Linked DNA regions of Homo sapiens: region 1 is linked to region 2. Evidence: fine-mapped expression QTL. A gene starts in region 2. The other region holds a variant in brackets. All regions are shown on one strand. Distances are from middle to middle. Region 1 overlaps BICRAL (BICRA like chromatin remodeling complex associated protein). Region 2 holds the start of BICRAL (BICRA like chromatin remodeling complex associated protein).

Region 1 (5,374 bases), 77 kb after region 2:
TAAGGAGAATAGTTCTTTGTCTTTTCAGAGACAAAGAATCTCTGAGGAAAAGCGTGGTTTGGTAAACTCCCATGTTTAGAACAGAAATGTTAGCATGAACTTAGTTGGCCAATGGTCAGGCACTGCCAAGGTTTATAGGGGTGCCAACACATAAATGATTGGTGGGAACCTGTGCTTTTGAGGTCAGGGTCATAGTTTGAGTCCTCTGTGGGGCTAGTTAAACTAAGTTATAAACCCACTATGGTATAAAAAATATAAAACTAAAAAACTGCCGTATTATTCCTATATATCTTATTTTATTTGCATGCAAATAAATATGACTAGATTTAATTTCCTAACATGACTTTACATTGACATTGACCATTTCCCTTGTAAAGCATTCTCCAGCAGTTGCAGAGGGACCAAGCCCACACTGTGACACCAGACAAAAGTCACTTCCGATCACTAAGTGATGCGGTACAGAGACTGCTCTCCTACCACGTGTGCCAGGGCTCCATGCCCACTGAAGAAGACTTGAGAAAAGGTAAGCAGGCTGGGACCCTAAGGCACCACTCTGATACCAGGAAACCCTCCATGGACACCCCCCAGAAAAGCAAGAGCCACATCACCCCCAGATGGTAGGCAGGTTATTGTTTTTAATCACAGACCAAACTTGTTCCCTGTTTACTCAATTTCCCAGTCCATGTTTAAGGTTGTGACTTACACTTCTCAGTATTTTTTGAAGGGAAGTCAAGAGTAGGGGCACACACCTGTAGTCCCAGCTACTCAGAAGGCTAAAGCAAGAAGATCATGTGAGCCCAGGAGTTTGAGACTATAGTGTGCTATGATCACGCCTGTAAATAGCCATTGCACTCCTGCCTGGGCAACATAGGGAGACACTGTCTCTTAAAAAAAAAAAAAAATATATATATATATATATATATTTTTTAGGAGGGTACCCTAATGTCAGAGTATTTTATTGACAAATTAGGGACAGTAAATCCAAAGCTTTGTATGGACTGCCGGCTCCAGATGGGATGGCTTTGCACTAGACACTCTACACAGTGGTTTTGCATAGTCCTTGCCTTTAGGCCATATGCATACCCTGAATTTTTTTTTTTTTTTTTTTTTTTTTGAGATGGAGTCTCGCTCTGTCACCCAGGTTGGAGTGCAGTGGCACGATCAACTCACTGCAACCTCTGCCTCCCAGGTTCAAGTGACTCTCCCTGCCTCAGCCTCCCCAGTGGCTGAGATTATAGGCGCCCACCACCACGGCTGGCTAATTTTTGTATTTTTTTAGTAGAGATGGGGTTTCACCATGTTGGCCAGGCTGGTCTTGAACTCCTGACCTCAGGTGATTGGCCCGCCTCAGCCTCCGGAAGTGCTGGGATTATAGGCATGAGCCACCACTCCTGGCCAAACTGTTTCTAATAGTTTTATGAATTAGGCACTTGAGCTCCCAAAAGCATTCCCTAAGATTCCAAAATGAGTCCAGAGCATTGGCCACACATCAAGAAACTGACAAAAATGTGAGAGATAAAGGCTGAGCACAGTGGCTCACGTCTGTAATCCCAGCACTTTGGGAGGCTGAGGCAGGCCGATCACCTGAGGTCAGGAGTTCAAGACCAGCCTGGCCAACATGGTGAAACCCCGTCTCTACTAAAAATACAAAAATTAGCTGGGCGTGGTGGCACACGCCTTCAGTCCCAGCTACTTGGGAGGCTGAGGCAGGAGAATCGTTTGAACCTGGAAGGCAGAGGTTGCAGTGAGCGGACATCGCACCACTGCACTCCAGCCTGGATAACAGAGCAAGACTCTGTTTTAAAAAAAAAAAAAAAAAAAAGGCTGGGCGCAGTGTCTCACACCTGTAATCCCAGCACTTTGGGAAGCTGAGGTGGGTGGGTCACCTGAGGTCAGGAGTTCGAGACCAGCCTGACCAACATGGAGAAACCCTGTGTCTACTAAAAATACAAAATTAGCCAGGCGTGGTGGCACATGCCTGTAATTCCAGCTACTCGGGAGGCTGAGGCAGGAGAATCACTTGAACCCGGGAGGCAGAGGTTCCCATGAGCCGAGATCGTGCCATTGCACTCCAGCCTGGGCAACAAGAGCGAAACTCCATCTAAAAAATAAATAAATAAATAAATAATAATTTAGAGATAAGAGCCCCTTCCCCAAACCTAGAACTCCTTCTGTCCTGATGCCTGGCCATGCTCTTTCCCACCACCACCGCTAAGGCCTGGCTGTATCAGTGCCCTCCTCTTTTCTAATCCCTTCCTCAGCTGCTACAAGTCTTACTCCTCCTGGCAGGGACCTCTAATCTCAGGGCACAGTGGTTTCTGTGAGTCCACTGTGGGCTTCCCTAGGACACCAAGGAATAGGGTCAAGATCCAGCGTTAAACAGGGGGTGTGAAAGGGCTGGGCATGGTTCTTCACGCCTATAAGCCCAGCATTTTGGAAGGCCGAGGTGGGCAGATCATGAGGTCAGGAGTTCGAGACCATCCTGGCCAACATGGTGAAACCCCATCTCTACTAAAAATACAAAAAAATTAGCAAGGGCATGGTGGTGCACACCTGTAGTCCCAGCTACTCGGGAGGCTGAGGCAGGAGACTCACTTGAACCCGGGAGGAGAAGGTTGCAGTGAGCTGAGATTGCGCCACTGCACTCCAGCCTGAGCGACAGAGCAAGACTCTGTCTCAAAAAAAAAAAACCCACAGTGGGTGTGAAGACTGAGAAGAAGAATGAATTAGAAGGTGTTCAAATCCTTGGAGACCAACAGACAGAGGACAGAGCCACATGACCATGACAGTTTAATGTAAAGCTGTGTCTTTACATTAAACTGGTTTACCTAGTCCAGACAGTTGGACTTCATTGTTTCAGCTATTTTAGTTTTTCATACCATTAGGCTTAGGTCATCTAAACTAGCAGATCATTCTCTACTCATTGATATATATATATTTTTTTTTGAGACAGAGTCTCATTCTGTTGCCCAGGCTGGAGTGCAGTGGCACGATCTTGGCTCACTGCAAGCTCCGCCTTCTGGGTTCACGCCATTCTCCTGCCTCAGCCTCTCGAGTAGCTGGGACTAGAGGTGCCCGCCACCACGCCCAGCTAATTTTTTTTTTGTATTTTTAGTAGAGATGGGGTTTCACCATGTTAGCCAGGATGGTCTC[C/G]ATCTCCTGACCTCGTGATCCGCCCACCTCGGCCTCCCAAAGTGCTGGGATTACAGGCATGAGCCACCGTGCCCGGCCTACTCATTGATATTTATTGCGAGTCTGTTATATGGTTTTATTTTATAGGTGATATCAAAGTAATTATGTTTTTGGTTTCCTAGTTAAAGTTAAAAGAGTTAGTAATAAAATGAGTTTCCATGACCAGTGGACAGTGAGGGAATGCAGTGTAGAAGGATGATGCTTAGCCGGGGAAAAGCTCATCTAAGAAGAGAAAATTGCCCCAGATAAGCCATGTTTGAATAACAGAAGAGTAATGTATTTCAGTCTTAAGAAACAGAAGACCTAGTCAGTGATTTACAGTCTCTCACTATTTCTTTGTCTCTCTCTTTTTAAAGTGGACAATGAATTTGAGACAGTTGCCACTCAGCTCCTAAAAAGGACCCAAGCTATGCTTAACAAATACAGATGCCTGCTCCTAGAAGATGCCATGGTAAAAGTCATGCTACTGATATTTGTTCTTTAAAACTTTACAGGTCACAGCCACTAAATCAGAGACAGAAAGGTCAAGGAATTATAGAATATAATGTAAAAGTAACAGATATTTCACACTGTAGAAAAACTTACGCTTAGCTGCTACTACAAAAACAGCAGTGAACATTTGCTGTACTTTACTTGGTGGGTCAGTACTATTCTCTTGTTTAACGGATAAGGAAACCAGGGCTTTGGTTAAGTAACTTGCTCGAGAACAGATGGCTAAGAAGTTTGCAGAGTAATTAGCAGAGCTCGGATACGAGCCAGGATCATCTGACCCCTGGTCCACACTCTGATGCCATCTACCGCCTTTCACCAACCCAGAGATGTGGGAGAAGGACTGGAGGCACATCTGAACAGATAAGCTGGTGACAAATGTCAAAATTAGTTTTGTTTTTGAGAGATCATTGACATTCCATAAAATTTACATTTAAAGTGTACAACTGAGGCCAGGCATGGTGGCTTATGCCTGTAATCCCAGCACTTTGGGAGGCCAAGGCGGGTGGATCACCTGAGGTCGGGAGTTCAAGACCAGCCTGACCAACATGGAGAAACCCCTTCTCTACTAAAAATACAAAAAGAGCTAGGCGTGGTGGCGCATGCCTGTAATCCCAGCTACTCGGGAGGCTGAGGCGGAAGAATCACTTGAAGCTGGAAGGCAGAGGTTGCAGTTAGCCAAGATCATGCCATTGCACTCCAGTCTGGGCAACAAGAGCGAAACTCTGTCTCAATAAAATAATAATAATAATAATGAAAAATAATGGATCACCTGAGGTCAGGAGTTTGAGACCAGCCTGGCCAACATGGTGAAACTCGTCTCTACTAAAATACAAACATTTCAGTGTTCAGAGTTGCAGTGAGCCGAGATCGCACCACTGTACTCCAGCCTGGGTGACAGAGTGAGACTCCGTCTCAAAAATAAATAAATAAATGAAGTGTACAACTTGATGGTTTTTAATACATTTACAAGGTCATATTGTCATCACCACTGTCTAATTGCAGAACATTTTGATCATCCCAGATAGAAACTGCAATTCATTTGAAGTGCCAGTTAAATAGAGAAAGGAGTGAGAATAAGATACCTCAGAAAATGATAGAAAGACCGAACCTGAGATTTGAGAAGCAGTTCTAAAATCATATAGGCTTTAACCTATCAATTGGTCTCTTATAACTCATTTTCAATTTGATATCAACTTTGAAAATGTACCTTGGGAGATTGGTTGAGCTATATTATACACATATACAACATAGAGTAAATGTGTATCCGTGTGTCTGTATTTACTTAAATATATCTATATTTACTTAAAATTATGCCACCAGGCCAGGCACAGTGGCTCACGCCTGTAATCCCAGCACTTTGGGAGGCCGAGGTGGGTGGATCACCTGAGGTCAGGAGTTTGAGACCAGCCTGGCCAACATGGCAAAACCCTGTCTCTTGTAAAAATAAAAAAATTGTCTGGGTGTGGTGGTGCGTGCCTGTAATGCCATCTACTCCAGAGGCTGAGACAGGAGAATTGCTTGAATCTGGGAGGTGAAGGTTGCAGAGAGCCAAGATTGTGCCACTGCACTCCAGGCTGGGCGACAGAGCGAGACTCTGTCTAAAAATAAATAAATACAATAAAAAATAATGCCACCAAAGTCTGTAATAATTGTTCTCAGGCAGGTGCGGAGGCTCATGCCTGTAATCCCA
Region 2 (5,374 bases):
GTTGCCCAGGCTGGTCTCAAACTTCTAACCTCAAATGATCCTCCTCCCTCAGCCTCCCAAAGGGCTAGGATTACAGGCTTGAACCACTGTACCCTGACTAAAAAGATCTTCTGTGTTGAATATGACAACATTGTATGCCGGCCCCAACAGATTTAATTTATGCAACATAGTCCAGTTACAGTATCCTTATATATGCAAGAAAGGTGTACTACCATTACATTTTTTTTTAATGCTTAAGGGGATATAGAAGCCATACAATAATTTCACTTAAATAATTTTAATCTAGAGAGAGTTTTATTGAGAACTCACCAAATATCTGGGAGAGATGGGCTTGAGCCATTTGAGAATAGCTACTCCATAGGCAGAGCAGCTGAGCATTCTGTTTATCAGCAGGATCCTATTGCTATATGCATTACAAATGAATTTTAAAATAATTTATAACATTTCTTAGGCTTAATATGTATTTTTTAAAACCTGAATTACATTCTGTACAATTCACCTTTTACCTATCCTTGATGTTTATTTAAAATAAAAGACAACAAAACCCCTAGTATATTTTGTGGGCATTTGTAGTTAACCTAGACTACAAAGGCACCTGCTCCCACTCCAGGCCACGTAATGTTGTTGTTGTTGTTGTTTTGTTTTGTTTTTGTTTGAGTCTTGCTGTGTCGCCCAGGCTAGAGTGCAATGCGCGATCTCCGCTCACTGCAACCTTTGTCTCCCGGGTTCAAGCGATTCTCCTGCCTCAGCCTCCCGAGTAGCTGGGATTACAGGAGCCCACCACCACGCCCAGCTAATTTTTGTATTTTTAGTAGAGACAGGGTTTCACCATGTTGTCCAGACTGGTCTCGAACTGCTGACCTCAGGTGATCCACTCGCCTCGGCCTCCCAAAGTGTTGGAATTACAGGCGTGAGCCACCGCGCCCGGCCTGGGCCACATAATCTAAATACTTTGGATACTAGATAGTTTACAGAGAAGTTTCAACAATTTGAGATTTGAGATTAAAAATAGGTGGTAGTTATACTTGGACCAAAGAATGTTAAAAGATTGACTAGCTCTCTTTTAAGAATGAGGGGGTTATGTAATGAAAATTCCGCAAATATAGAGATAAAAGATATCTACATAAAGAGAAGGCAGTAGAAAATGAATGTTTTGAGAGTGATTTACTCTGCCTCACCTTCCTTTTAGTCACTGAAGTTTTGTTTTCCTTTTTAATGTTCACATACGGGCTTCACAGGTAAGGTTTCAAGAATTTTGGAATGGACAAAGAGTGTTGCAAAGGAAAGCTTAGTACATTTGAAAGTTAGGATGAACCAGTTATTTGCCTAATAACTAAGTTAAAAGTCGTTTTGGTTTTTAAAAAGCATATGCAAAACGTATTCACTGAGGCTTGCTCTAATTAGAGTTCTAAACAAATCTTGTAGGGTTTTTTTTTTTTGTCTTTAATCTCCCCCCTTCCCGTGTCAAGTTAAACTGGGTGGGTGGGTGGGTGTGTGTGTGTGTGTGTGTGTGTGTGGAGAGAGAGCCTGCAAGAGAATTAGCACGCACCTCGTGGATCTTAGTAATTGTTTTAAAGCCAAATAAAACTGTTTCTTGAATAAACCAATACATTTCTGAAGTTGAAAAGAATCCCAAAGGAAACGAATGAACATCCTTGCAGCTTGATTTTCCAAAAAAAAAAAAAAAAATTTTTTAAATTAAAAAAATCCTAATCTCCACATTTTTTGCCAGGCGAGAACCGAAGTTTGGAGGTAGACGAGCAGGCGAGCGGTTTGCCCGGGCGCAGAGCATGAAGGCCGGGCGGGCGCGGGGAGCGGCGCCCCGGCCCGGCGCGGGGGTGAGCGAGAGAGAGAGCGGAGCGCGTGTGGCCGGCGCCGCTCGGCCGGGAGCTCCCGCGCTCCGGCCCCCGGCCCCGCGCCCGCCGCCGCCGCCGCCGCCGCCCCTGTTGCGATGGCGCAGAAACCCCGTTGACAAGGCACTGCTTTTTCATGACGGTGAGTTTCCCTTTGAGTGTATTATAATTTTGTGATAAAAATTTCAAGGAGAAAAAAAAAACACACAACCTCCTTCCTCTGCCTCTTTCCTTCGGGGAGGGGAAAAGCGAGGGAGGGGGGGCTGGAGATCTGTCTCCAGACTGAAAAGAAAGGAGCAAATTAAACACCGAGTTGCCAAAACCAGGATATTAGGTTTCAGCCCAGAGAGCTATTGGCTAAGGCTGTGTTTTTTTTTTTTTTTTGGGGGGGGGTGGGTTTGTGGGTGGGTGATGGTGGTGGTGGGTGGATGTTTAATGGACACGGAGAAAAGGGGAATCGAGTGTTTATGCCTTTCCCAGCGCTGCCGGGGCCCCGGGAAGACCAAGTTCAGTGTCTCGGGCGGGGGCGCAGGCGGGCAGGGGGCGGCGAGGCCGGGCCGGGGGCGCCTCGGCGGGGTGGGGGCCCGGCGCCTTTCTTTTTCCTTTTTTTTCTTTTCCGCGGATGCAAATTTCTGGAGCGGGGAGAGGGAGAGCCCGGGAAGGGGGTGGCGTGGCGGTTGGTGGTGGGGAGGGGAGGGGAGGGAAGCCTTTTAATGACTCATTGATTGAGCCGGTTTAAAATTAGTTGTGTGCGCGAGTGTGAGTGTGTTTTCCGCCCCCCGGAGCCGCCGGGAGCCGGGAAGGAGGGAGCAGGGCTCGGCGAGGGGAAGACGGCGCGGCGGGGCCGCGAGCAGGGGGCAGGGAGGGCCTGGAGTGACGGCGGGCGAGGAAGAAAAATAAGCTTTTCCAATCTCCTCCCCTCTGTTTTCCCCCCCTCGTTTCTTTTCTCTCTCGGAAGCTCTAGGGTGTGAATCACATTTTCTTTCTTCTCGGCAAAATGGACCCCGCGTCTGGGGAGGGGGAGGGGAGAGGGTGGGGAGGGAGGCGGCGGAGACGGGGTTTATTTTTCATCCTGGCTTCCCCATTCCCGCCGCATCTGCGGGCGGCCGCGGCGAGGAGAGCAGGTCCGGGGTGCGGCGGGGAGAGCTCGGGGCAGGCGAGTCGCCCCGGCCCCGTTCCCGCTCCCGCTCCGAGCCCGCGGCGGCGGCGCGCACCTGCCGCGGGACTGCCCCTTCCCAGCCGCCTCGCTGCCTTTTCGAAGCACCGCCGAGGATCCGCGGCCGCGTCCGGCCGAGCCCCCAGCCGCGCGGAGGACCGGCGGCCCAGCCGGGCGTCTCCTGCGAGGCCCGCGCTGTTCGCCGCGCCGGCCAGAAGAGATGTGCGGCTGGGACGGCGCATTTTTGGCCGAGTGCGCGCGGGCGTTATGCTGTTCGCGCCCCCCCGAGTCGCCCCAAATGCGGGATATTGGGTGGGGGGGTGCGGTTGGAAGGCGCTAAGATGGCGCTGGGCCTGGCCTGTCGCCAGGGCTGGTGGCGCAGTTGCTCGGCGGGCGCCATCTTTCTCGCGGCGCGGGCGGCGCCCTCCGAGGACATCTCGATGACCAGGGCGCCGCGAGGCCCGGGGCTAGCGGGAGCCGAGAGCAGGGTGCTGAATTCTGGAGATGGGACTGGGGTCGCGCGGCCTTCTCCTTCCCCACGCCCCCAGACCCAAAAGACGAGGCCGCCGGCTCGGAGCGGGAAGGGCTGGGGCCAGCTTCTTCCTCCTAACCACTTGTTTGTGATGGAAGAAGGGGGCTGGGGGTCGAGCCTCGCGGCTGATGGGTTCCCTCCCTGACCCCGCACCCCCACTCCTCCCAGTCGAAATTGGAGGTGAGGCGCTCCTGCCATTTTCTCTCCTGCGGTCTGAGAGTGGACGTCTTTGTCTTCTCTGGCCCGGCGTGGGGGCAGGGCATTGAGCCTTTTCCTTAATTCTTCAGTTATTGAAAGTAGAGTCCAACCAGGTTACAAAACTAAAAAAAAGAGTCCAGGACATTGTCTGTCTGCCTTCCGGTAGCATGGTTCTCTGTGGGTACCCTACGCTTCGTTTCTTAGTTTTACTCTAAAACAACCCTGAGGAGACATTTACTAGTTGTCAGATTACGGGAAGGTGATGGGTTCCAGTTTTTTGAAACTTTTTTTGTTGGCTTTCATATTACTTCAAATGGCAGTGAATTAAAACAGTTTCTTAGAACTCTAATCTGAAAAGTTAAATACGCTTTAAAACAGTCTGAAACTCTTCTAAAAAGCAAAACTGCATTATTAAAAGCATCCATGTAAGTATCTGTTGGTAGTATCTATTAGAGATGGGGGAGGGGTTTAACTTTTACATTATTATTGAAAAGAGGAGGGGAAAGGTCTATAAAGCTCTGATCTCTCTAGAAGTCCACATACATGGAAAGTAAATAGTTAATTTCTAGTGTAGAAAAATAACACCGTGGTGCCAGTAGGTGTGTCCTTGTGTTTATAAATATACATAGTGGATGTTTTAGACCATTTAATGAGACCTATTATATATTGAATACCTGCTGTATGCCAGGAACTGTGCCTGATGCTTTGTATAATTTCTATTATATCAGCCCAGAAATAGTGATTTTATGATCTGTCTACCGGGGAATGAACTAACGTTCATAGAAGTATAGTAATTGTTCGAGGTCTTGCAGTTTTAAGTAGTAAAGTTGCCATTGGATCACAAAAGCTGTATTCTTCCCCCTACACCTATGGTTTCCAAATGTGAGCATCAGAATTAATTTGGGAGATGTTTTTAAATAGAGATTTGTAACATCACCTCTTCCACCATCATTTGCTAGGGCCAACTGGGTCTTTTAATAATGTGTCAGGCACTCCAACTTCTTGATGTTCAATATTGACATTCTGGCCCACCCTGCACCCGCTATATCCAAAGATCTAGTATTCCAAAGCTCTCCAGGTGATTCCAGTGACACAGACACACGTTTGGACTGTCTTGTACTATGCTATGCACTGTTCTGCTCTTTTTTGAATTGGAACATGAGAATTGAGGTCCATGTAATTTTGAGTTTCAGTAGTTTTTTGCTCACATTAGTCTCATTTTTGTTTTTCCTCTTGTAGCTGCCATTTATCAAATCGAAATTATTTCCTCAGAGAAAAAGGTTTAGGTATCCTAAGACTTTAAAATCTCAGTACGTTTTTTTTTAAAGTATGTTGTCTCATTCTATTGAGAAGTTATACAACATACAGGCTTCTAGGTCTAGCCAGGCCATCTAGTTTAGTCAAGACAGCTGTGTAACAAACGTAGCCTTGAGGCCTGGCACGGTGGCTCATGCCTGTAATCCCAGCACTTTTGAGGCTGAGGCGGGCGGATTACCTGAAGTCAGGAGTTAGAGACCAGCCTGTCCAACGTGGTGAAACCCCGTCTGTACTAAAAATACAAAAAAGCTAGCCGAGTGTGGTGGCAGGTGCCTGTAATCCCAGCTACTTGGGAGGCTGAGGCGAGAGAATCACTTG

Evidence for each region. PIP is the estimated chance that this variant, and not a neighbour inherited with it, causes the effect.
Region 1: its variant is the best candidate, but not a certain one, in a credible set for the expression of BICRAL in whole blood (INTERVAL, PIP 0.85).

Annotation. Positions count from the first base shown.
Region 1 is chr6:42,856,714-42,862,087 of GRCh38, forward strand. BICRAL (BICRA like chromatin remodeling complex associated protein) reads left to right here. Exons shown (of 13, transcript NM_001393499.1): 10 at 378-523; 11 at 3,549-3,643. Among named protein-coding and RNA genes, the nearest start is that of RPL7L1, 20 kb to the right of the region's middle. The variant C/G (reference allele first, on the strand shown) is at 3,154.
Region 2 is chr6:42,780,107-42,785,480 of GRCh38, forward strand. BICRAL (BICRA like chromatin remodeling complex associated protein) reads left to right here and starts at 1,946. Exons shown (of 13, transcript NM_001393499.1): 1 at 1,946-1,995. It overlaps LOC401261 (a long non-coding RNA gene), which reads left to right and starts at 3,390. Exons shown (of 2, transcript NR_134654.1): 1 at 3,390-5,225. RefSeq lists enhancers at 2,755-3,444, 3,301-3,490, 3,445-4,134, 3,511-3,580 and a silencer at 2,881-3,220.